Homo sapiens: one gene and its partners. The protein of the gene in region 2 purifies or fractionates together with the protein of the main gene of each other region. This does not show direct contact. Each region holds a gene or a part of one and is shown on either strand. Other genes may lie near its edges.

The links.
Region 1: the proteins of ALDH9A1 (region 2) and CSTF1 purify together in Homo sapiens (affinity purification with mass spectrometry, with the first as the bait; one large-scale study listed by BioGRID). This does not show direct contact.
Region 3: the proteins of ALDH9A1 (region 2) and ACAT2 fractionate together in Homo sapiens (co-fractionation; one large-scale study listed by BioGRID). This does not show direct contact.
Region 4: the proteins of ALDH9A1 (region 2) and CIAPIN1 fractionate together in Homo sapiens (co-fractionation; one large-scale study listed by BioGRID). This does not show direct contact.
Region 5: the proteins of ALDH9A1 (region 2) and TNIP3 purify together in Homo sapiens (co-immunoprecipitation; one large-scale study listed by IntAct). This does not show direct contact.
Region 6: the proteins of ALDH9A1 (region 2) and THOP1 fractionate together in Homo sapiens (co-fractionation; one large-scale study listed by BioGRID). This does not show direct contact.
Region 7: the proteins of ALDH9A1 (region 2) and HDHD5 purify together in Homo sapiens (affinity purification with mass spectrometry, with the first as the bait; one large-scale study listed by BioGRID). This does not show direct contact.

Annotation. Positions count from the first base shown.
Region 1 is NC_000020.11:56,399,145-56,402,644, forward strand, and holds part of CSTF1 (cleavage stimulation factor subunit 1), read left to right. Parts: coding exon 1-213; intron 214-3,500. UniProt on the Homo sapiens protein: One of the multiple factors required for polyadenylation and 3'-end cleavage of mammalian pre-mRNAs. May be responsible for the interaction of CSTF with other factors to form a stable complex on the pre-mRNA.
Region 2 is NC_000001.11:165,678,063-165,681,562, forward strand, and holds part of ALDH9A1 (4-trimethylaminobutyraldehyde dehydrogenase isoform 1 precursor), read right to left. Parts: intron 2,622-3,500; coding exon 2,425-2,621; intron 1,521-2,424; coding exon 1,380-1,520; intron 1-1,379. UniProt on the Homo sapiens protein: Converts gamma-trimethylaminobutyraldehyde into gamma-butyrobetaine with high efficiency (in vitro). Can catalyze the irreversible oxidation of a broad range of aldehydes to the corresponding acids in an NAD-dependent reaction, but with low efficiency.
Region 3 is NC_000006.12:159,760,545-159,764,844, forward strand, and holds the start of ACAT2 (acetyl-CoA acetyltransferase, cytosolic), read left to right. Parts: upstream 1-1,500; 5' UTR 1,501-1,543; coding exon 1,544-1,598; exon of another isoform or gene 1,599-1,788; intron 1,789-1,934; exon of another isoform or gene 1,935-2,093; coding exon of another isoform or gene 2,094-2,235; intron 2,236-2,374; coding exon 2,375-2,509; intron 2,510-4,300. UniProt on the Homo sapiens protein: Involved in the biosynthetic pathway of cholesterol.
Region 4 is NC_000016.10:57,430,386-57,433,885, forward strand, and holds part of CIAPIN1 (anamorsin), read right to left. Parts: intron 2,176-3,500; coding exon 2,102-2,175; intron 882-2,101; coding exon 766-881; intron 1-765. UniProt on the Homo sapiens protein: Component of the cytosolic iron-sulfur (Fe-S) protein assembly (CIA) machinery required for the maturation of extramitochondrial Fe-S proteins.
Region 5 is NC_000004.12:121,147,322-121,150,821, forward strand, and holds part of TNIP3 (TNFAIP3-interacting protein 3), read right to left. Parts: intron 2,899-3,500; coding exon 2,782-2,898; intron 1-2,781. UniProt on the Homo sapiens protein: Binds to zinc finger protein TNFAIP3 and inhibits NF-kappa-B activation induced by tumor necrosis factor, Toll-like receptor 4 (TLR4), interleukin-1 and 12-O-tetradecanoylphorbol-13-acetate.
Region 6 is NC_000019.10:2,795,503-2,799,002, reverse strand, and holds part of THOP1 (thimet oligopeptidase), read right to left. Parts: intron 2,923-3,500; coding exon 2,815-2,922; intron 1-2,814. UniProt on the Homo sapiens protein: Involved in the metabolism of neuropeptides under 20 amino acid residues long. Involved in cytoplasmic peptide degradation. Able to degrade the amyloid-beta precursor protein and generate amyloidogenic fragments.
Region 7 is NC_000022.11:17,149,278-17,152,777, reverse strand, and holds part of HDHD5 (haloacid dehalogenase-like hydrolase domain-containing 5 isoform 2 precursor), read left to right. Parts: intron 1-3,032; coding exon 3,033-3,236; intron 3,237-3,500.

The DNA of each region.
Region 1 (3,500 bases), on a different chromosome or scaffold from region 2:
ATATGTACGTAACTGGAAGCAAGGACGGCTGCATCAAATTATGGGATGGTGTTTCAAATCGATGCATCACAACTTTTGAGAAAGCACATGACGGTGCTGAAGTTTGTTCTGCCATTTTTTCCAAAAATTCTAAATACATTCTCTCAAGTGGAAAAGACTCTGTAGCTAAACTTTGGGAAATATCAACGGGACGAACACTGGTCAGATACACGGGTATGTGAGACGTTGATGTTACTTAACATTTCTGTAGTGTTTACACTTTCCAGAACTCTCTTTTAAGACCTCACAATAGAGCAACACAATATCTATGCATTGAGCAAGGCAGATGTTACCCTTTCTTAGATAAGAGGAAACCAAGACTTACAGGTTAAGTCATTTAGCCAAGGCTACACGACTTGGAAATAGAACGGTGCTTTCTTTGCTCTTCTGAGCACCTCACACCGTGGACTAGGGCTGGATTCCATGCAAGTAACATTTGAGAACCTGGTGATCCATTTGTAGACTGGCATGCCCTCTTCCCACAGAAATGTGAAAGCAATCCAGAGAAAAGTTTCCAATAGTAGATCTCAGTATTATTAATATATGTATTCATGAAAGAATGGCTGAGAGGGAAGATCTTATCCCATTCCTAAGAGAGCAGACCTAGCCCGCAAAGGAAACCACGTTAATTCTGAATGCAGATATAAAGTAGGCTCAGCAGACAGAAAAAAATTGCATCCACTGAATTCTCATTTATGTATGTTGGTCTCATTGGTAACAGTAGTGCCTGTGGAGTCTTTTTATAATGAAATCCATTTAAATTTATCCTATCACTAGTAGGGCCCAAGTCTGGTTATTTGATAATGAATGTTAAAACACTGTCTTCTGTTCCTTGTAGCAGCAAAGACTGTTGTTTGGTAGAAAACCTCCAGAAAATTTCTGATTGTTTCTTCCATTGTGAGATATGTTTGTATCATACACTAAAATTGGCATGAGCATAACTCAAAAAAAATCACAAGAAAACAGTATTGGAAGGGACTGGATTGTGTTTAAGTTTGCATTGAAGAGTCAGTGACATCTGACCCACTAGGGGGCAGCATAACTTGCCTTAGATTTGTCTCATTGTAACCAAAGTTCCCTTCCCCAGCCATCTTTCTGGCTTCTGGTACCACTAGCAAATCTTAGGAAGAGCCATTTTTATCATAATTCTTGGTGACTTCATTGAAACACTTGTATAAAGTTGTTCTGAAAAGTATTTATTATAAAGAACTACTTTATAATAGTTGTGTTTGTTGCAAAAAGAAGATAAAAAAGTGATCAGGGTAAATGTGAAAGTACTCCCCCTATAGAAGTTATAACTGTTTTAAGGAGTGTGCTGTATCTGGACAGATACACACCAGCCTACTGACAATAGCTTATATATTTGCTCTAGGAATGTTTTGGGTGTTTTATAATAGTATGAGGTTGATTGGCTTGTTTTAGTGGGGAATAGCAGTGTGGTTTTTCAAAAATGTGATTATGCTGAATTTATGCACAGATTCCCCTTTTCCTTTTTTCTCATTTCACAGGTCAAGCGCCTGTCATGTCAGCATGTTAAGATTTCTGTTCCCAGTTTTAATAATTAGTTAGAATTTGGGCCAGGCGCGGTGGCTCACACCTGTAATCCCAGCACTTTGGGAGGCCGAGGTGGGCAGATCACAAGGTCAGGAGTTTGAGACCAGCCTGGCCAATATGGTGAAACCCCGTCTCTATGAAAAATACAAAAATTAGCTGGGCTTGGTGGCGGGCGCCTGTAGTCCCAGCTACTTGGGAGGCTGAGGCAGGAGAATAGCTTGAACCTGGGAGGTGGAGGTTGCAGTGAGCCGAGATTGCGCTGCTGTACTCCAGCCTGGGCGACAGAGTAAGACTCCGTCTCAAAAAATGATAATAATAATAATTAGTTAGAATTCAGAGGGTTTTTGAAATGATGAAAAAGGAAAAACTATCAAAACTTTAGAAATTGGGATGCAAAAAATTAAAAACAATATAAATAACATACAGGACTGGGAGAAAATGGTTATAGCATATATACAGATGTTAGACATTGAGTTAACATCCTTAATCTATAAAGAGAACTCATATGGGAAAAAGATGAGTCCAAACTCGAGAAAAAAGGAGCCAAAGGACAGGGGGCTGCAGAAGAGAAAAATGGTCAGGAAATGTAAGAAAAGGTGGCCAGCCTTGCTGCAGACCCAAGAAATGAATATGGGGACCTGGTTTTGTTAATCAGATTTCAGGAGTCTTAAAGATTTATATTATCTACTATTGATAGAGATTTCGGGAAATCATATTTTGTTGGTCAGAGTCAGCTGGTAAAATATTTCAGCACAGTTTGGTGTCATATCAAAATTTTAAATACACGCTTTTTGACCCACTATATCTACTCTTAGAAATTCAACCTAAAGAGGTAATTGGACAGACATGCACATGCCCATAAAAGGATGTGTGTCCCAACATCATTTGGAGTGGCTGAAAGTTAGAAACAGCATAAATGTCCAATAAGAAGCACTGAGGAAATCTGTTACGCATCCATGGACAACATACACCTTTAAAAATAAGTATGCATGCTAACATGGGCTGAGCACTCGCACTCCAGAGCCTCCTTTGCATTCTCTTATTCTTAATCCTCACAGCCTTATGGGGTAGGTTCTGTAACTACTCCATGGAACAGATGAGAAAATTAAGGCTGAGGAATGTTAAGTAATTTGCCCAGGGTCACATTAGTGTTGAACCCACATCTGACCACACAGACTTTGTGTTTTTATCCACTAAGCTGTATTCTGTCTTTACAGATCTGCACTACATATGCTTGAATATTAATAGTATATGACAAATGCTCTGACTTAAAGAAGTTACAAATGAAGCCAGGGACTGTGGCTCACACCTATTATCCCAGCACTTTGGGAGGCCAAGGTGGGCAGATCATCTGAGGTCAGGAGTTTGAGACCAGCCTGGCCAACATGGTGAAACCCCATCTCTACTAAAAATACAAAAATTAGTTGAGTGTGGTGGCACATGCCTGTAATCCCAGCTACTCAGGAGGCTGAGGCAGGAGAATCTCTTGAACCCAGGAGGCAGAGGTTGCAGTGAGCCGAGATCACACCATTGCACTCCAGCCTGGGCAACAGAGTAAGACTCTATCTCAAAAAAAAAAAAAAAAGAGAGAATTTACAAGTGAGCACATAACACTTAGATATTTCGAAAGAGTATTCACCAAAGTATTGACTGTTACCTCTGATGGGTGCAATTATTAGGCAGTTTTTATTTTCCTTTTTATACTTTATTTGGTACTTTTAAACATAAAATATGTAATTTATAGTCATAAAAAGGCTTCCTTTTGGAAAGTAGATATTCATATACTTTGTCTCAGTAATTCTGTCTCTAGGAATTTACTCCTAAGGAAATAAAGCTTTCTGTACAAAGGATGTTCATTACAACATTACTTATAATTGATATAAACTAAATGTCAGGAAGTAAAAGAA
Region 2 (3,500 bases):
CAGTGGCTCACACTTGTAATCCCAGCACTTTGGGAGGCCAACGTGGGTGGATTGTGAAGTCAGGAGTTTGAGACCAGCCTGGCCAACACAGTGAAACTCTGTCTCTACTAAAAATACAAAAATTAGCTGGGCATGGTGGCGGGCACCTGTAATCCCAGCTACTCAGGAGGCTGAGGCGGGGGAATCGCTTAAACCTGGGAGGCAGAGGATGCAGTGAGCCGAGATCGTGCCACTGCACTACCGTCTGGGGGACAGAGCTAGACTCCGTCTCAAAAAATAAGTAAGTAAATAAATAAAAATAAAAAATAAATAAATAATGATAGTATTGGATTATAACACATAGAATGAAATAAGAATCCATGGGTCCATACTGATATAAATAAATGAATGGAAAACAAACAGGGGTGAAGGGCAAGTTCTTTCTTACAGTAGAAGGTGAACAAATATAGAAGAAATGATGGAATTGGAAAATCACCATTTGCAACCCCATAATAAAAATTGTTTTCAGCAAGAATCGTCAGTGGTGATAGAAGTATTTACTGCATGAAAGTTTGATGAGGAACAGGATAGTCTCAAAATACCTCCTACAAGATCTTATTAACCACAAAGTAAAAAACAGTAACTTTACAGTGAGGACTTACCTTAAAGCAAGTGATCAAAGTTAAATCACCACTGAGTAGGATATGACATCATGTTTGTGGTATTTTTGCCAAAAATTCATAATATGAATCTAACAGAAAACATCAGACAGACCCAAACTAAGGAACATTCTACAAAATGAATGGCCTGTTCTCCCAAAATGTCAACGTCCTGAAAGACAAGAATAACTGAAGAACTGTTCTCAGCTAAAGGAGATTAAAGACAAGACAACTAAAGGCAATGCATCATCCTTGACTGGATCCTAGACCGGAAAAAAAACCATTTTTGTTCTATTTTACTATGAGGACATTAGTCAAACAAGTGGCAAAATTTGAATAAGGGCTATAGATTGAGTAAGGGCTATAGATTCAGTAACAGTACTATATCAATGTTAATTTTTTAATTTTACTAAGTGTACCGTGCTTATGTAAAAGAATGCACTTGTTTTTAGGAACTTTATATTTAGAGGTTAGGGGCCTTATGTCTACAATTTACTCTCAAGGTTCAGAAAAACTTAATATGCCTACGTATGTACAGGCAGATAAAGAAGATGATAAAGTGAATCTGTTAAAATGTTAATATTTGAGAAATCTGGTTCAAAGGTACATGGGAATTCTTTGTACTATTTGTGCAACTTTTCTGTAAGTCTGAAAGTATTGTAAAACAAAAAGCTTTAAAACACACTGTTGGATGAGGGGGTAGAGATTCCTTTTACACCTCTTCCAGGGACAGGTACATACCTGGCCTTGTGTGAGGAAGTTGGCCATCAGCGCCCCCTTTACAGCATTGTTCATATCACAGTCTGAGAAGATGATGAGTGGAGATTTGCCTCCAAGTTCCAAGGTAACAGGTTTGATTCCTTTAGCTGACATCTCCATGATCTTGCAGAACAAGGACAAGGTATTCAGAACTTTAACACAAATTATATTGCATGCTAAGTCAACTAGGCCCTGAACCTACAAAATCATCTTGAACTGTTTGTGACCTGTAGCCTTATTCTTGTCAATATCCTTTGCCTTTTGGCTATTAAAATATTCTATTCCAGAAAACTGAAGAGAATCCACAGAGTTGCACTGACATTAGAAGAGGGAGTTCATTTAAAAAATATTGTCCCAGCCTGGGCAACATAGCAAGACCCTATCTCTACAGAAAAATAAGAAACTTAGCCAGGCACAGTGGCACATGACTGTAGTCTCAGCTTCTTAGGAGGCTGAAGCAGGAGGACTGCCTGAGCCCAGGAGTTGAAGGCTGCAGTAAGCTGTGACTACACCACTATAATCCAGCCTGGGCAACAGGGTGAGACCCTGTCTCAAAAAAATAAAAATAAAAAATATTGTCAATTCACAGGATTGTCATAGCCAGAAATTCTTTTGTGTTATTGTTACTGTGTTTAAGGCTGACAGAGTTCAGAACACAAATTAATGTCAAAATAATGGATCTGAAATAGCCTGAGTAAAAATCCTTTCTTCTATACAAGAAATTAAGTCACTAAACAATACAAGTGGCAGCCCAGGCCCCTGTCCACTAAGACACATCCTCTCCTTAGGCTGGGGCTGTTAATTTCCACCCCTACCTGGCCTAACACAAATCACCCCATGTGTACTCCCTTTCCCCCTTCATACTTTTACAGGAAATTTCACACCTCTGCCTAATAAAATCTCCTTCCCATTCCCAATTCAGGCTAGGTAAAATCAAAAGAGAAGCCTCCAAAATATACTCTGGGTAGGACCGGATTTGCCACATCCAAATGCCATGTGTGTTGACCAATACTGGTTTTGTCCTCACCTTCATGCCAGTGGGCACACTTCCAGTGAAGGAGACTTTGGCCACATCGGGATGCTGACACAGAAACTGGCCTGTGGCAGCCCCTCCCTGCACCACATTGAAGAGCCCAGGAGGTACACCAGCCTCACTGTAGATTTCAGCCAGTAGCAATGCAGAAACAGGTGTAAAGGGAGAAGGTTTAAAGACCATGGCATTACCTGCATAAACCCAAGACACAAACATAAAAAGACTTTCTAAGACCAGTGATCCCCTGAAAACAGGACTAGAGGACAATTCAAAAATGATTCCAATTGTTTCCTCTTCCCCAACCAAATCCTACATCAAAAATGTTATTAATAACCATATTAGTTTGTTTTCATGCTGCTGATAAAGACATACCCGAAACTGGGAACAGAAAGAGGCTTAATTGGATTTACAGTTCCACATGGCTAGGGAGGCCTCAGAATCATGGCGGGAGGTGAAAGTCACTTCTTACATTGGCGGCAGGAGAAAAATGAAGCAGCAGCAAAAGCGGAAACCCCTGATAAACCCATCAGATCTCATGAGACTTATTCACTATCAGGAGAATAGCATGAGAAAGACCAGCCCCCATGATTCAATTACCTCCCCCTGGGTCCCTCCCACAACACATGGGAATTCTGGGTGATACAATTCAAGTTGAGATTTGGGTGGGGACACAGCCAAACCATATCAATAAGTAAACAACTCTTGTCCTTTTCATCTTGGTTTCTCTCATTAAACAGATCCCAAACCCTACAGTTGCCCAGTCTCACATTTGCATATCTAGGCCTTTTCACATATATTATCTCATTTAACACTTTCAACAGCAGTATGAAGTAGGTATCATTAGCTCCATTTTATAAAAGTTGACATTGAAGACCAGAATGGTTCACTTGATGAGAGTCCCCAAAGCTAGTGACTTAATTCTGGTGACTATTAAAGCTAGTGACTATTTTTCCTCTTTCACAGCTGTATCTCAAAGAGAAATAGGCTAAAACAAGAACATGCAATGGCAACAGGACAAAAGCTGCATTTCAATATAATGTCCTAACAGTAATGCTTTCTAACATTACAAT
Region 3 (4,300 bases), on a different chromosome or scaffold from region 2:
ACAGGTGTGAGCCAAGGTGCCCGACCTGATGTGCTTGTAAGAATTTAAATGAAGAGGGTCAGTCAGCTTAGGAGACGAGGTTAGATGTAAGGATTTCAGACTTGTCAGTATACAGGTGGTGATTGATGCCGTAGGAATGACTGGTATTACCCAGGGAGCTGGTGCAAAGTAGGAGCCTTGGGGAACATGTTAAGGGGATGTGAGAGTAAGCCCACAAAGACTCAGAAGTGGCCAGGGAGTAAGGGGAAAATGGGATAGAATAGAGCAAAAGCCACGGGAGGCATTCCTTGAATTCCTTGGACTCAGATATGTTAGGGGACAGGAAACACATTGAAGACAACTGAAGAGACTTCAGTGTGCTGCTGAGTTCTTAGCAGAGTAGACAGCTGATTTCACCACTATTCCAGACCCTAAAGATTTCTCCTGAAATTGCACTGTTATGCAATTTTTTTCCTTCTCTATTGCCCCACCTCTGGGGCCTACACTCTTTACCTTCTCTGATTTATCTGACCCATCCGCATATCTCTGCAAAGTCTTAATGTAGGTTTCCAGGATTTAATGATTCTTTCAATCAACTTTAAAGTTCTTCAGGAAGATTCTCCAGGTCCGTCAACAGTTTTCCCCTTCATGACTTTGTGACAAAGCTTTCTTGTTCCACTATCCAGGTGTTCCCAACAAGTTGCTGTAACGGTGGCCCCTCATAAGCTTGCCTGGAAACCCTAGAAAGCTCAGAAAAATTATGAACTTTGCCCAGTAAGAGGCTGGGAAGTCAGAAAGGGTTTTAAACAAAACTGACCCCACTTGTTACATGCTCCTTTCACTGTCCAAACGTCAACCAAAGGAACTTTTGTGACGCTAAGACGCTCCCGGCGTCCTCACCCGTTCACAGCCAGAGTTGATCTTAGAAGGCAGGGGGCTCGCACCGAGACGCTCCTAGCAAGCCCCTCACGCGAGCGAATGACTGGCGCCAGGAGAAACGCATAGGACCTCCCGAAGCCGCCGAGAGCAAAAGGACCCATCAGAGCTGTGCTGAGACCCGCCGCGGGCCGGGCTCGCACTCGAGATTCTCGCCCGTGGGATTCCAGTCCTGAGCTGAACGAGAGATAAGTCTTTGTCACCCCCCAGTCTTTACTGTTTCGAGAAACCCTAAGATTTTTTAAAAAAAAGCCCAAGACGTCAAGTCGGGGAACTCCAACATTGGGGTGTCCAGAAACACTGGGGTTTCAGGCGCTCTGTAAATGCGTCCGAGGTCCGCGGTTCTGCCCGCAAGCCCAGACCCCGGCCTCACTTCCGCCCCGCGCCCCGCGCCCCGGCCTCACTTCCGCCCCGCGCCCCGCGCCCCGCGCCCCGCGCGCCTCCGCCCGCCCCTGCTCCGGCCTTGCGCCTGCGCACAGTGGGATGCGCGGGGAGGTGGTGCGCGGGGAGGTGGAGGGCGAGGGGCGGGGCTACCTCAGGTCCCGCCCGCGGCAGGCCTGTGGGCTGCGAGGAGGAGCTTTGCCTAGCTTGCAGGCAGCGCAGGGCAGACGGCGGCAGGAGAAGCAAGATGAATGCAGGCTCAGATCCTGTGGTCATCGTCTCGGCGGCGCGGACCATCATAGGTGAGTGGCCGGCGGGAGCCGCGCAGAGTCCGAGGCGCCTGCTGCTTCGGCAGGAGCGCCGAGGGCCGGACTTGTGTAGGAGAGGGGCGTATGTGGAGGAAGCCGGTCAGGCCAAGCCGCGAGGAGCCGCGGGATCCCTGGAACCCTGCGGCTCCCGCGTTCCCTGACCTGGTGCTACAGCCCCACCCTCTCCTCTCCCGATGTGCGCACTCCGTCCCTCGTGCTTGGATTGGCTCCCGGGGTAGAGCCATCGCGTGGCCTGCCTCTCCCATTGGTTGGCGTAGGGAGGTGTTCTCCTCCGGGGCCCCTGATTGGCCGGCTCCGGGAGGCGCCATCGGTAATGCCTGCGGCAGGGGCGGAACTGCTAGGTGGTCTGAGCCCGGCTTTGGGCTGGGGTCGGGCTGTCACACAATGGCTAGAAGTCGTGACTTCGTCTCCTTCGTGCCGCATGGTTTTCAACGCCCTTGACCCGCCGGTTCCTTTTGTTTGGGAAGCATGGGGTCGCATCCAGTCCTTCGGATTTGGGGAAATAGAAGGGCTACAGCGGCGTCCCTAGGCCGTTCTGGAGGTCGCCTGTCCAGCCCTCGGCTGCTGCGAGTTGTGGCACCCACCTTGACCTTTGCTCAGACCAGCAGGTGTAGGAACGTGTGGGAGGAGAGGGCACTGCCTCCTCGCGTGGCCTTGCCAAACAGGGTCATGAGGCTCCCCTGCTCGTAGGTGGTTCCCGTATTACCCGCAGGCTTGTGATGTCCACGCTCTCCGCCTTTCTATTGTAGGTTCCTTCAATGGTGCCTTAGCTGCTGTTCCTGTCCAGGACCTGGGCTCCACTGTCATCAAAGAAGTCTTGAAGAGGGCCACTGTGGCTCCGGAAGATGTGTCTGAGGTCATCTTTGGACATGTCTTGGCAGCAGGTAAGTCTCAGTGATTCCAGGAGAAGTCAGGCTTATTAGAAACAGCCCATAAACACACACACACACACACACTCTCACACACTCACACACTCTCTCACTCACTCAAGTTCTTGCCTCCTTGCTTTTGCTCAGAGTTCCCTCTGTTATGATTCCTCCTGTTGGCCCCCTTCTTCCAGCCCTGTCAGTAGCTTCTATCCAGCTTGAGACTCAGCTTCTTGGCCAGGCAGGGTGGCTCCCGCCTGTAATCCCAGCACTTTGGGAGGCGGAGGAGGAAGGATCACTTGAGTCCAGAAGTTTGAGACTAGCCTGGGCAACAAAGCAAGACCCCGTCTCTACAAAAAATAAAATAGCCAGGTATGATGGCCTGTGCCTCCCAGCTACTGGAGAGGCTGAGGTGGGAGGATCACTTGAGCCCAGGAGTTTGAGACTGCAGTGATTGTGTCACTGCACTCCGTCATGGGTGACAGAGTGAGACCCCTTCTCTAAACAAACAAAAAGACTTAGCTTCATTAATATGCTTTTTGTGAATGAACTTAGACCACTGACCTACACCACCTACACTGCCTTTTCTTTTCCTTTTTTTTTTTTTTTTTTTTTTTTTTTTGAGACGGAGTCTCTCTCTGTGGCCCAGGCTGGAGTGCAGTGGCGTGATCTCGGCTCACTGCAAGCTCCGTCTCCCGGTTTCACGCCATTCTCCTGCCTCAGCCTCCCGAGTAGCTGGGACTACAGGCGGCCCACTGCCTTTTCATTCTTACGAAGCAGGGCCGGCCGGGCCCGGTGGCTCACGCCTGTAATCCCAGCACTCTGGGAGGCCGAGGTGGGCGGATCATGAGGTCAGGAGATCAAGACCATCCTGGCTGACACGGTGAAACCCCGTTTCTACTAAAAATACAAAAAATTAGCCGGGTGTGGTGGCGGGCGCCTGTATTCCCAGCTACTTGGGAGGCTGAGACAGGAGAATGGCGTGAACCCGGGAGGCGGAGCTTGCAGTGAGCTGAGATTGTGCCACTGCACTCCATTCAGCCTGGGCAACAGAGTGAGACTCCTTTTAAAAAGAAGAAGAAGAAGCAGCAGCAGGGCCAGCCTGACGCATAGGAAAGTATGCCTGCTCCTCCTTACTACCTCAAAGTGTCACTCATTCAACAAAAATGTATTCAGTTCCTCCTATGTGCCCCATACTGTGCTTAGTGCTGGGAGTATGGTTCCAACAATACAGGTAAGTTCCCTGCCCTCTTAGGGCTCAGTTCTGAGCTTGGAAAATAGGTGCCACATCATGCCCCTTGCAAATGGGGCATATCACTCCCCAGAGGAATATAGCTGAGTCCTGAGAGTGCCCCCATCTTCTGATTCTTTGGGTTTGAACACTCGTAATTAATTAATTAATTATTATTATTATTATTTAAAGAGACAGGGTCTCACTCTGTTGTCCAGGCTGGAATGCAGTGGTGTAATCAATCGTAGCCCACTATAACCTCAAACTCCTGGGCTCCACGGTATCCTCCCACCTCAGCCTCTGGAGTAGCTGGGATTACAGGAGCAGGCCACCACACCTGGCTAATTTTTTAAATTTTTTTGTAGAAGTGGAGTCTGTCTGTTGCCTGGGCGTGAGTGCAATGGCTGTTCACAGGCACAATCATGGTGCACCATGCCCTTGAACTTCTGAGCTAGCTGGGACTACCGGTGCATGTCTACTAAGTTTAAGGCTTTTAAAGCACTGTGCTAAATGCTTTCCTTTCATTACCTCATTTAATCTTCCTCACAAGTCTGTTATATCCTATTATCTTCATTTTA
Region 4 (3,500 bases), on a different chromosome or scaffold from region 2:
AAATCCCAAATCCTAACAGTGCCAAAATGTGCTTTAAGCCTTTTCTCTTCACACCAGTGTCATAACTCAGAAGCCTATAGGCCAGGCAGACAGCAGCAATATGAGAGGCTGCTGAGGGAGACAGAAGTGGGAGGAGGATGAGGGAAGTACCGTGTGTGCTCTGTCTACAGAGGGCAGCCACTACTCAAGCTTCAGCTGGTTATCATGCTGGGGAAAGTGGACCCAGATTGCCATATTTTCCAAATTCAAGAACAGAAGGGAAAAAAATCTGTGTTTTCACTTGAAATTTCCTGATTTGTAAATGCTGGCAGCTTTTACATTTAAAAAACACTGATGATTAACGCTGATGATGAACATCACTGATTAACTTTCTACAATCCTTCCCATCCATTTATAAAAACAAATGTGAAGACACCAAGGTCTCGCTCTGATGCCCATGCTGGAGTGCAGTGGCACAATAGTGGCTTACTGGTAGGGTTTTGAGGGAGAGTGAAATTAGATACATGGCACAATTACGGCTCACTGCAGCCTCGACCTCCCAGGCTCAAGTGATCCTCCTGCCTTTGCCTCCCAAGTAGCTGGGACCACAGGTACATACCACCATGCCTGGCTAATTTTTTTTTTTTTTTAATTATTTGCAGAGATGGTCTCCCTGTGTTGCCCAGCCTGGAAAATGTATGTTCTAAAAATAGTACAGCACCGCGATGTCTTCAGCATGAAGCCACTGGAGGCAGCATGGCAGGCTCCAGTCACCCCAGCACTCACCAGTTCTTACAGGCCTTCCTCTTTTTCCCTTCCCCACAAGAAGCAGCCCGCAGGGAAGCTGGATCTGGCTTCTTCAAATCTTCTGGATCCAGCAGCTCATCTGAGTCAATGAGATCCTGGAGAGTGTTCAAAGCAATGAGTGATACAGTCGTGGTCTCTGCTAATGAAAAGCTAAAGTGACTGCAGGCTTCGAGAGGAAACTTGGAGTCCAGGGTAAAGAAGGTGTCCACCCTGTCCTCCTTTTGGTTGATCATCATGTTCAACCTGACCACATGCTCAAGAGGCCAACGGTGAGTTAAACTACATCCACAGAAGATGCACTAGGATGCAAAGGAATTAGAAACAAATTTACATGAGAAAAAGCTGTATGACTGGCCAGCAATGTGTAGAGAATATACACATGTTGGGGGTTGGGGGCAGGAGTGGGGAGAAGGGAGGGAACAGGCAGAACAGAGAAAGAGAGAAGTGTTTATGAAGAGTCACGTGAAAAAGGGAATAAAATATCTTTTACATAATCCCAGATAAAAATCAAATAATTATATATACCTTTATGTAATTCTTTGTAAATGTGTAGACACTTAGTCTGTAAACCCTATGAGAGCATGAACCTCACTTATTTTGCTCACTACTCTAACTTCAATAGTAGAGGTGTAGAAATGAAGAACTTTATTACAGACATGGCCAAAGATAGAAAATAGTGCTTTTTAAAGCATGGAACAGTCAGCAACTTGCCCAAAGGTGCCAATAAAACTATTTAAGCTGACAAAATCTTTTCAGGTTTACACATGCCCACAAGAGTTTTCAACATATCGTATGAAGTGAGAACAAGAAATTATGTGGGGAAAAAGAGATGCTAAAAAATTTAAAATGCCACCAACATGGCCAAGCGCAGTGGCTCACACCTGTAATCCCAGCACTTTGGGAGGCCGAGGCGGGCAGATCACTTGAGGTCAGGAGTTTTGCGACCAGTCTGGCCAACATGGTGAAACCCCGTCTCTGCTAAAAACGCAAAAATTGGCCAGGTGTGGTGGCACATGCCTGTAATCATAGCTACTTGGGAGGCTGAAACATGAGAATCGCTTGAACCCGGGAGCAGAGATTGCAGTAAGCCGAGATTGTGCCATTGCACTCCAGCTTGGGCAAGAGAGCGAGACTGTCTCCAAAAAAAAAGCCACCAACATGGAGTTTCCTTCTAAATCAAAGATGTGACAGGCATAGTCACAAATCTGGGCTTTAAATACGTTCACACCTACAAGTCCAGAAAGGTCACTATAGCTGTTCACACCCAAACTGGGGCCTGAAAGAAAGCAATCAAGTGACAATGCTGCCAGCTCACCATGCTGTCGTCCTCCATATCGTTGGCTGAGAGGGTCCACAGCTTGGCAGCAGCAGGGTCCACAGCAGGTTTCACTGAGTCCAAGCAATAAAAGAAAAAACTCCATAAACACAGTCAGAAACTATTAATTACAAACATACATAAATGCTTCCTGCTGTGTAGAAGAGAACACACTGGCCTGGGAGGCAGAAGATGTGGGTTCACAGTCCAGCTCTACCCCTCTGAGAGGTCTGACCTTGGGCCAACCACTTGCTGATAGTTACAGAAGTCACCATTTGCTAAGCTCTTGCTTTGCACCAGGCACCATATTAAGCACTTATATACATTATCTAACTTAATTCTGCTGACAACCTTATGAGGTAACTATCTGTCATCCTACTTTTACCGCTGAGGAAACAGGTTTAGACACTTAGGCTGGTTCCACAGGCTGCAAAGCCTGTCTGATGCTTTTAACCTCCATTCCATATTGCTTCCTCCTCGATACCTTAGTTTCCATTCTATAACATGAAGTTAAATTGTACTTCCTATGTTACTGCAGGTGTTTTGAGGATTAAATGAGAAATGTGTCAAAACCTTCAAAAATAGCAGAGCTTTAGCCTCATGTAAACCTGCTACATACAAGAAAATAGGCTCTAGAGCTGCTGGTGGCAAGGTAACACCATCAGTGGCAGACAAACCTCACACTTCCTGGTTCTCTGTCTAGTCAGGAGAATGCAAGGAAGAGGCAGAGAGCTGAGGCTCGGATGCAGTGTGGGCAAATCCTCGCAGGCCCTTGGGGTAAGAGTACCCTCTAGTGATCATTGTCACAGCTGGATGCTCATACCTTCCACAAGGCCAACTGTTCTAAGCTATTCCTACCCATTCTGGAACCATGAATCGAAAGGTTAGATTCCAAAGGATTTCTTGAAGATTTAGGTTAGACAGTCAAAACCGTACAAGTGGGAATGTACCAGTAAATATCTGTTAATGTCTGCATACCTCACAGCTGGGTCAATTCAGGCATTTAAAAATAGGGATAGGAAGGATGAGGATGGAGCTGTGTGTGTGTGTGTGTGTGCGTGCGCGTGCGTGCACGCGTGTGCTTGTACACAATTTTCTAGTCAGAAGAAATATAGTTTTATAAGTGTCTTAGCATCCTCAAAGTAAGAACAGCTGATTTTCCTGGCATGGGGAAAAAAGCACATGAGAACAGGAACAGGGCACTCTCATACACCATTACCACTACACTGTGAGGTCTTCTGAGGAGAAACGTTAATTCTGGGACCTGGAAGGACCTCATTAATTAAACTGTGTGACTCAGTCCTGTAAAATTAGGAGGCCTCGGTATCTTCTGGTGCAGAAGAAGGAGCTGAACTAGATAATACCTATGTATTATTTCAGTTTTGGATCCTAATATGCC
Region 5 (3,500 bases), on a different chromosome or scaffold from region 2:
CCATCCCTAACACAAGGGCTTTGATGTATGAATACTGCTTGAACTTCTAAAAGACAGTTTACTGACAATAGATGTTAAGTGATGCCACTAAATACTGACATGCCCAAGTTTCCAGACATAAATTATAAGTTGAATGCAAAAAAGAAATGAAACCCTTACATATGTGGAAAAGCAAAGCATGATTGTTAAAAGGTATTCACAAATTTTCCTTTTATAAGTTATTTTGGATGTATCTCATAAATAATAGTAATATTTGAGTGGAACACCTCTTGAGAGGCACTCCAAATATTTGAGAAAAGTGACTAAACTAAAAACAAAAACAGGTTTAATTATTGTTACTGTTTTCAACTGACTTACTGTTGACTGAAGGTTAGCAGACTGGTATATAAAGCTATGAAAACAAATGAAAGGTAAGGAATGAAGTAAAAACATTCCTCTAAGATTCTGATTTAAATTACTACTTATATTGGAACCTATAGCTAGATTTTTATCTATTAAAACTAATGCACATTACACTTTCATCACTAACAGCCCAACAAATTTTAACTAAAGGTTTATCAATTTTATTGTTCTAAGTCGACAGCAATAGAACAAAATATGCAAGGGAAGAAATTAAAAATTTTGTATAGATCTACATGCAGATACACATATTACATTTTTAAGGCTTTATTCACCAGAAGCACTGAAGGGAAACTACATCCAGCCACATTGACATTTTGATGATTTTTTTGGTTGAGAACTGACATTCATTTCCAGAGACAGTTAAACTGATGCTCTGTAAACAATTACCAGAGGCATTTTAAATGGGAGGAGCCCATCTGATTAGAATTAAACACTGGCAACATCATCACTTTAGTCAGGTAGGGGCCAAGATTCCAACTCAGTTTCTTTGTGCATTTAAACCCTTTAGTGTTTCATGCGGCACTTGGTGATGTAATGATTGCGGGTGCCTGATTAGAAACGTGCACAGTTAAAATATTTATGGAGAAAGTCAGCAGTAGAGGCACTGCAAAACTACGGAGATGGATTTTGGTCTTCCCACAGGGTTTATGAAAAAAGAGTATCTGTCACTGTAACAAATATGAACCAAATCATTATTATAAACTTTATGTGTAAAAGTGACTCTTGCATGTGGTGTACCTTATATGCGAGTTCCGAAGATGTCAAGTGTTTTGAACATAAGCAGTGCTTTTGGTTTTTGAAGAAATCCTGGCTAGCACCAACAGTTACTTTAGGGGTTGAGAGTTTGACAGAGCTTTAAGACTGTGCATATTACCCTTATTCTCTTCGTCGGTTTATTTTTCAGCTATGTATTTTACCCTGAATGTAATGAAGCAGATTATTCAAGTAAAATTGACAGAACAGAAAATCCAACTTCACCATCAAATGCTATAAAATTTTTAGATCTATTCACAGGCTACTTCATATGAAGCAATAACAATAAAGTAAATAGCAACAATCATAACACAATTGCTGAATTTTTCCATGTATTGCAACAAAAATCTTTGTACTTAGTACTTGCTCAGGGCAAAACCAGTCAGTAAATCATACCCAGGGACATCAGAAAAATAATGCTTTCCAGCCCTTTGTTCTATGACACCCTGTCTCCCATTGCTAATATGTTACTGACAATGTGTGCCTCAGGGATTGAGGTTCCTTTATGTATCCTGTATTTATCATTATTGCCATGAACCATTCCAGATTTTTCTCTACATTAATTTAACCTCTCACATAAAAAGAGACATGATATGCATGGTCGGCCCCTCAGCTAAGTGAATTTCAGCAGATTGATTAAATTTAGACACAGGTAGTTTAACCAATGCAGTATCTCCACAGCCCTATGCTGCCAATAGATACATGCGGAAGTTGTAGAGAGTGCATCCTTACTCTTGCTGTCCACTTGGCAATAGCGCGTGAGGTTAGGTGAGTGGGGAGGAGAATGCTCTTGTGCATCAGTGAATTGCTAAGTGGTGCCATCCATACACGGGACTAGCTGAGAAACCTGGTTTCAGTGATTATAATAAGTACAAAGTATTTTCTTTGAAACTGCTCTTATTGTGCGAAGGCCTAGAGGCTAGCAACTACAGAATCACCACTCAGCTGCTACCATTTTCTGAAAAAGTCCAGAGTTGGGATTAATAGTGTTCTTAAAATAAACCACGTGGCTGGGTGCTGTGGCTCACGCCTGTAATCCCAACACTTTGGAAGGCCGAGGCAGGTGGATCACGAGGTCAGAAGTTTGAGACCAGCCTGGACAACATGGTGAAACCCCATCTCTACTAAAAATACAAAAAATTAGCTGGGCATTGTGGTGCATGCCTGTAATCCCAGCTACTCGGGAGGCTGAGGCAGGAGAATCACTTGAACTTGGGAGGCGGAAGTTGCGGTGAGCGGAGGTTGTACCACTGCACCACAGCCTCAGTGACAATGGGAGACTCTGTCTCAAAAACAAAAACAAAAACCATGTCTACGTGAAACTCCCTAGCCCCAGTGCTAATAGAACCTCACCCAAAGGTTAATTGGCGTGCCCCTCTTTTAATTGTGTGATCTTGGGTAAGCATTTAATCTGTCTGAAACTCAGTTCCCTATGTTCTAAATGGTGGGACTGAACTAGCTGATCTGTATTCTTTCTATCAAGCTTGAAAATTAGATAATTCTACTTAAAATAAATGCAAAAACCTTTGACATATTTCTAGCAGCAAGACATCTAAAAATGCCCAAAGAAGCATGAAAAATGGGCAGTATGTTCTCCACAGGATCATGCCACTTCCAGCTTCTCACCTGCTGCTTCAGAACTTCCATTTCTGTTCTCATCTCCTCATGGCAGAATTCCACTCGAGACTTCCTCAAACAGTCCTCGGAAAATGAACACTTGATATTCAAGGCATCCTGAAGAGCCTACGTAATAAGATAAGTACACTGTTGATCTAAGATTTACCACATGGAATGAATTCTTTTATAATTGTTACAATCATCTCAAATGCACCCACAAATATGCATTTCATGTTTAACGCTGCTTACATAACCAAGTAACTTTCTTCTTTCTGATTTTCTCATATATGTATTTTTTTTTTCAGAATCTCTGTCTTTTTTCCATGATGATGCTTATGTTAGTCAATCCTCATTATTATTTAGGCTTTGATATTGGACCCTCCTCCTCCACCTAGCCAACTATGAAAACAAAATCTGTATCTATAGACTTTCTCCAGATTCTCTGCTTCAGTCAAATGTATACCCTTTCAATGATGCTTAGCCTTAGGGAAAATCAGAGGCAGCAAATATGCCCATCCCTTGGTACTGACTCCCAGAGATGATGAATCAGTAGGCTGGAGGGTATGGTTTGAGAATTTGCATTTCTCAGAAGCTGGTGCTGCTGGTCCCAGGTGATGTTTTGAGTAACATTCTACTATATAACTATGGCATGCCTCCAACAAGAGAGAGGGACATCCACAGAAATGAAAGCCCATGCAGATTCATTATCTGTTAGCTCTGTTGCGTTG
Region 6 (3,500 bases), on a different chromosome or scaffold from region 2:
AGAAACAGCTAAAACTCGACCCTGGTGATATGGGATATCAACAAAGGAACTGAATCTTGAGTGGTCCCTCTGGTGGCCTTGAAGGCTGGGAGGTGACCACTATGTGACAAGGACCTGGCTTGAGGCCACATGACACATGACAGGCTGGCAGCAGGGCTGTACTTTGACTCAGATTCTCCTGCTGGAAGCTCCGCCAGGCGGGTCTGGAGCCCAGCTCCATGGGGCCAGAGCAGAAATGCTCATCCGCAGGACAGAGGGCGGCAGCAGGGGGAAACTGTGCCCAGGACTTTGCAGGGAGCCTGTATCTTGTCAGGAAGGCCCTGGTTCAGAACCAGCTGAGGGTTTGCTGGGCCTCTCCTGGGAACAGGCCCCATGCTGGGCAATTCCCAATGTCTCCCCCTCTTGCCATCTCACATAACAAACCCAGCCATGCCAGGGAAGGCTCTGGAGACTCAATGAGCACACAGCGCTGGCCCTAAGGGCCGCGGGGACGCGCTGGAACTCTGCTCGCCAGCATCCGGACCTCGCACCTTTTCCGCGCTTCTGTCCTCCAGGCGGGGCTGCCTCTGCTCCCTCCTTGCTTGCTGGCCCTTGTGGGAGAGTTTGTGGCTTCTACCATGCACATGGCCACACATGCTGGGCATGCAACAAGCCGAAGGGGTTTTAAAAATAACTGTGGTACAGTGGCTCACACCCGTAATCCCAGCAGTTTGGGAGGCCAAGGCGGGTGAATCACTTGAGGTTAGGAGTTTGAGACCAGCCTGGCCAATGTGGTAAAACCCTGTCTCTATCAAAAATAAAAAAAAATTAGCCAGCTGTGTTGGCGGGTGCCCGTAATCCCAGCTACTCCAGAGGCTGAGGCAGGAGAATCGCTTGAACATAGGAGGCAGAGGTTGCAGCGAGCTGAGATCACACCGTTGCACTCCAGCCTGGGAGACAGAGTGTGACTCCCTGTCTAAATAAATAAATAAATGCATAAATAAAAATAAAAATAACTGGCTCTTGTCCGCTGCGGCTGAGCTGAGGACCCCCAGTCCCCGAGTACTGAGACGGACCCTGACTCCGCTTTCGTCAGTGCTGGTTTCACTGACAAACCCACCTGGCCTCTCTGAGTCTTGGTTGCCTCAGCCATAAGGTGGAGACGCCCCCTAACCAGGACAGCGGTGGCTTTATGGAACCGGAACAGGGACAGCCATGGGGCTATGGCTGCAGCCTGGGACCTGATTGAACTGTGTGCTTTCTTTCCTGTACAGATGCTCCCTGACTTAGGACAGGGGTATGTCCCAATAATCCCATCGTGAGTTGTGAATATCATAAATCACAAATGCATTTAATAGGAGCGAACATCACAGCTTAACCTGGCCTGTCTTAAGCGTGCTCAGGAACTCACAGCAGCCCACATTCTGGTGAGATCGCCGAAGGCAAAGGCTATCGGATATGAGGTGTTGGGTATCTCATGTAACTTCGGTTTTCAGTTTGCCTGCGTCATTGCAGGCTAGCTGGTAGCTGTGGCTGGCGCCCAGCGTCACAGGACAGCAAGTGCCCAAGTGGCCGGCCTCGGAAAGATCAGCATTCCAAGCACGGTTTCTACTGAACACACACCATGGTGAATCAGGGGCCTGTATTCTGATGCTTTGACATTTGGGTGCCTTGCTGGCCCTCGAGAAATGGCCCCTCCCAGAGACAGCCAACAGCTCGCCTGCAAACATCTTTCACGTGCAAATCAACTAGTCTCGAGCCCCTACACTCTGGGGCACCATCCACCGGCCCCCATTACCCTAGGGCCAGGCACCCGATGAGGGGCAGCCCCCATGCCAGGGCTGGCTGAGATGGTCCAGCCGGCCAACCCTGAGCCCACTCCCCGCTACACCCATGCCTTCACAAGGGACCCCAGCGAAGGCCCTGCCCAGAGCACACCTCCTGACCCAGCCATGCTTCCCATGTGGCGAGCTGCCAGTTCCTGGGAACTGTGACACGCATCTTTCCAGTGGCGGTCGCCACTGCTCTGTTGGTGCCGCTGAACACTGGGCTTCTGCTAACACACTACGCTTGACTTCAGCGCTGCGCTCCCAGCTCTGCACCAACTAACTCATGTCACCCCTGAGACGCCCACATCAGGCACACCGGGCAGTGGGTGGAGGGGCTCCCCTCGTTACCGAGCCTCTGCGCCCCATGTCTGTGTGGACCTGCCTTGCCAGAGTTCAGGTCCTCAGGCAGAAGAAAGATGGACATCAGGCCGGGGGTCAGCCCTGAAGGGGGGACGCTCCCGAGGAGGCAGGGGCAGGGGGCCACAGAAGCTCCACTGGCCACGCCCAGCACTCCCCGCACCCAGTACTCCCTGAGCCCAGCACTCCCCGCAACTGAGCACTCCCCAGGACTGAGCACTCCCCGTGCCCAGTACTCCCCATGCCGAGTACTCCCCAGACTGAGCACTCCCCACACCCAGTACTCCCTGGGACCGAGCACTCCCCCCACCCAGCACTCCCCAAGCCCAAGCACTCCCTGAGCTCAGTACTCCCCATGCCCAGTGCTCCCTGGGACCGAGCACTCCTCACACCCAGCACTCCCGGCACCCAGCACTCCCTGTGCCCAAGCACTCCCTGAGTCCAGCACTCCCCGGGACGCAGCACTCCCTGAACCCAGCACTCCTGATGCCCCAAGCACTCCCTGAGCCGAGCACTCCCCGAGCCCAGCACTCCCCCTGCCCTGCGCTTCTTGCTCCCACCACTCCCTGGGACTGAGCACTCCCTGTGCCCAGCACTCCCCGGGATCGACCATTGCCCACGCCCAGCACTCCCTACACCCAGCACTCACTTCCTGAGTCTCTCTGGGGAGGTGAAGCCCATTTCTCCGGCCCAGCTTGATTAGCCGCTCCAGGTACCGCGCAGCCTCGGGCCTCAGTGAGTCCTTCTGAACTTTCTCCTGGAATAAAAACATCAAAGCATGTAGGACGTGGGCCAGTGCAGCCGCTCCAAAGAGCAGTTTGGCAGTTTCTTAAAAACCTGATCATCCGGCCCCCGTGTGACTTGGCAACTGCACTCCTGGGCATTTATCTCAGAGAAATGACGACCTGTCTCTACATAAAACCTGTGCAAACGTTCGCTTTGTTTGGAAGAGCCCCACACTGACATCAGTCCAGAGCTCCTTCACCAGTGCGATGGCTGAATGGGAATTAGATTGCTGGTGGTCTCCAGGTCGGTATCGGGGTGTAGATGACACCATAGTTTTGCAAAACGTCATCACTGGGGACCTGGGCAAAGTTGGCAAAGGCATTCGATTCTTTCCTGCACCTGCATGGGAACCTCTCATTGTCTCAACAGAAACTCTGGAAAGTGGAGGTGGGAGGATTGCGTGGGCCCAGGAGTTCGAGACAAGCGTGGGCAACGTTGTGAGACCCTGTCTGTATTTAAATAAAAAGAAATAACAATCCACGGCTATCATGGGTCACCCTGATCTGGATTTACCAAAGCACTAGGGCTGCATGATCCTGAGACTGTGGG
Region 7 (3,500 bases), on a different chromosome or scaffold from region 2:
AGACATACCTCAGCTTCCTGGACCCCACACGCTCTTGGTTTTCCTCCTTGCACTGTCTTTTGCTGGCAGGTCTTGTGTGGTCCATTATTAAGTAGTATTGTTCTTCCTGGTTCTCTGAGAGGCGAGACCTTCCAAAATTTTCATCTCCAGGACCTGTCCAGTGCTGATGTCTCCACTTGCCTGTCTCCCAGGTCCAAAGTGGGACTTAACCTTGTATCCTCCAATGACCTCTCGCTGCCCGCTCCTACTGTGCCCTTTGGTTCAGTGACTCATACCCGCATCCACCCTCCCGGGTTCCCAGACCAAAATAAAAAAGCATGGGAGTCCGTGTGGCTCCCTCTTCCCTCCACCCCTGTATCTGGATGGTTACCAAGTCATGACTGTTCTGTCTCTGATAATGCCCCCTGATCTCCATTCTTACCACCACTCTCCCAGGTAAATGCTCCATCTTCTCTGTCTTGGGTTGCATTTGGTCCCACCTGGTCTTTCAGTTAACTCCCTTCAGTCCACCCAATGCAGTCTTTTCTCTGCAGCCAAATTTTTTTCTATAGTTCAGGTCTGATGATACCACTTTCCATTTTCAAACTCCTTAAATTGGCCTCGGAGACCTGTGATGGCCAATCTTCCCCACCCCTGTGGGTCAGGTTCCTCTGGTGTGGGCCTATCTCTTAGTGCAAGGCTCCCTGTAGACTGTCCTGGGGCTGCCTGTCTAATTGTCTTCTCATTGAACCAGGTAGGCAGGCAGGAACCACTCATCTAGTCTGGGGGTGACTGGGGGGTGCAAAGAGTTTTGTTACAGGATGTATTTAACACTTTCATTGTCTGGCTCAAAATTCTCTTTGAAGAAACTGCCTTTGTTTAATTCTGTTTATTTATTTAGAACTTACCTAGAATTGATTTGCACTTGCAAAAATGCTGCTGTTTTAGAGTTTGCTTTCTAGGCTGGTTGCTTGCTCTGTCACCTTAGCTAAAAAGTAGGTACTGGAGCGCCTTTTCTCTTCTCTTCTCTTCTTTCTTTCTTCTTCTTTTTTTTTTTTTTTTTTTTTTTTTAGTAGAGTCTAGCTTTGTCGCCCAGGCTTAAGTGCAGTGGCACGATCCCGGCTCACTGCATCCTCTGCCTCCCAGGTTCAAGTGATTCTCCTGCCTCAGCCTCCCGAGTAGCTGGGATGACAGGCGCCCACCACCACACCCAGCTAATTTTTGTATTTTTAGTAGAGGCGAGGTTTCACCATGTTGGCCAGGCTGGTCTTGAACTCCTGACCTCAAGTGATCCACCCTCTTGAGCCTCCCAAAGTGCTGGGATTACAGGCGTGAGCCACCACACCTGGCCTGTAGCGCCATTTCTGTTTCTGGTTGCTCTATAAAGGGAGCTCTGTGCGTAGAGTAGGTGTGTCAGTAAGAATGACTTGACCTAGTTGGCACCAACAAAGAAAAATAGCAAACAAGTTAGGTTAGGTTTTTTTGATGATTGAAGAACATCTTGTATGTTAACAGGCAGTTTATAAAATGAGAAATGGAATGATTTTTAAAAACAGCATTCAGCTTTATAAATCCAGGAAATGCAGATAGAAAAGAGATAATTTTTTTACCTTTAAATTATAAAAAAGTTTGATAATTAACAGTTGTGAAAATCAATATTGTAAGGGTAAAGTACGTTGCCAGTGGACATGTTTTTGAACAGCAGTTTGTCAGTTGGTGTTTATGTAATTACATTTGCTCTCTCTGATTTATTACTCCTATTTTTAAGAATCTAGCTCAAGGAAATACCCATAATATGGGAAAAAAATCAGTATTCCTGAAGAGGTTCCTTGTAGCATTATTTTTCATAGCAAAATTGTGGAAAAACCTAACTGTCCAAAATATAGAGAACAATATTAGTGAATTATTCACTCAGAATAGTATGTAGCCAGAAATGATGTTTAGGAAATAGAGCTATGCATAATTAATATGGAATGATAGGGCAGGGTGCAGTGGCTCAAGCCTGTAATCCTAGCACTTTGAGAGGCCAAGGTGGGTGAATCACCTAAGGTCAGGAGTTCAAGACCAGCCTGGTCAACATGGCATAACCTCGTCTCCACTAAAAATACAAATATTAGGTGGGCATGGTGGGGTGCACCTGTAATCCCAGCTATTCGGGAGAGTGAGGCAGAAGAATCACTTGAACGTGGGAGGCAGAGGTTGCGGTGAGCTGAGATAACGCTGCTGCACTCCAGTCTCGGCGACAGAGCAAGACTCTGTCTCAAAAAAAAAAAAAAGACAGCCAAGAGATACCAACTAAAAAAGTAAGATGGAAAACAAAGTCAACATGATTCTATGTGTGTGTTAACATTAGAAAGGTGTGTATACTATAGATTTATAAAAGCCTTCTGGAAATTATGCAGGACAGGAATAGGACTAAGTAAGTTGGAGACAAGAAACTTTTGAAACATTTTTATATTGTCTGTAGTGATTGAGGTTATTTTGTTTTTAACTTTTTGCTATAATAAAATCTTAAAAGATGGTTATAAAGACTATTGTAATCCATAAAAATATTTATGATATGTCAAGCAAAAAAGAACGAGATGATGTAAAATGGCATATAGTTCATTTGTAGCTACAAGACAAATATGAGAATAGAGAAAAAAGGGGAACTATTAATTGGTTGTTTTAAAGTGTTGGGATTAGGCTGGACTCGGTGGCTCACGCCTAATAATCCTAGCATTAAATTTAGGAAGCTGAGGCGAGAGGATCCCTTGAGCCCAGTGGGTCAAGGCTGCAGTGAGCCGTGATCATGCCACTGTACTCCAGTCTGGGCAACGGGAAGACTCTGTAAAAGCGAATGATTAAAAATAAGTGTTGGGATTATATTTTCTTTGGATTTCTCTATTTTCTATTTAAAGATTGCCCTATCAGAATCCCATCTTCATTTTTTTGTTCTTTCTGACATAGGTTTTCAAGGGACATGAGTGACCCGAGGATGGTGTTGAGCCTCTCTTTGTAAGGGTTGTTTCTTTGTTACTCACGTACTGGTAATTATCTTACCATCTCTGCAGAGCCCACCCACCTTTGGGTTCCTGTTGGACATCGATGGAGTGCTTGTGCGGGGCCACAGAGTGATCCCTGCTGCTCTGAAAGCCTTCCGAAGGCTGGTGAACTCCCAGGGGCAGCTGCGGGTGCCCGTGGTTTTTGTTACAAATGCTGGGAACATCTTACAACACAGCAAAGCCCAGGAGCTGTCAGCCCTGCTGGGGTGCGAGGTGAGAAGGCAGCCAGAGGCATGGAAGCCCAAGGACCTGGTTCCTAATGGAGCCGCTGCCCCAGCTCCAAGTCCCTTTCCCCTGGGTTGGGATATGGAATCACCTAGTCCTAGGTCATGGCCACAGCTGAACACAGAAATCCTGCCTGTGTATTTGGCAGTTGTAGATTATGTCCTTGTATCTGTTTCTTTTCTTCTGGGCATTGGGGGTGTGAGTCCCTGGAAAGCAAAGGTCACACACATGTCTAGAACTTGCATAGCAGGA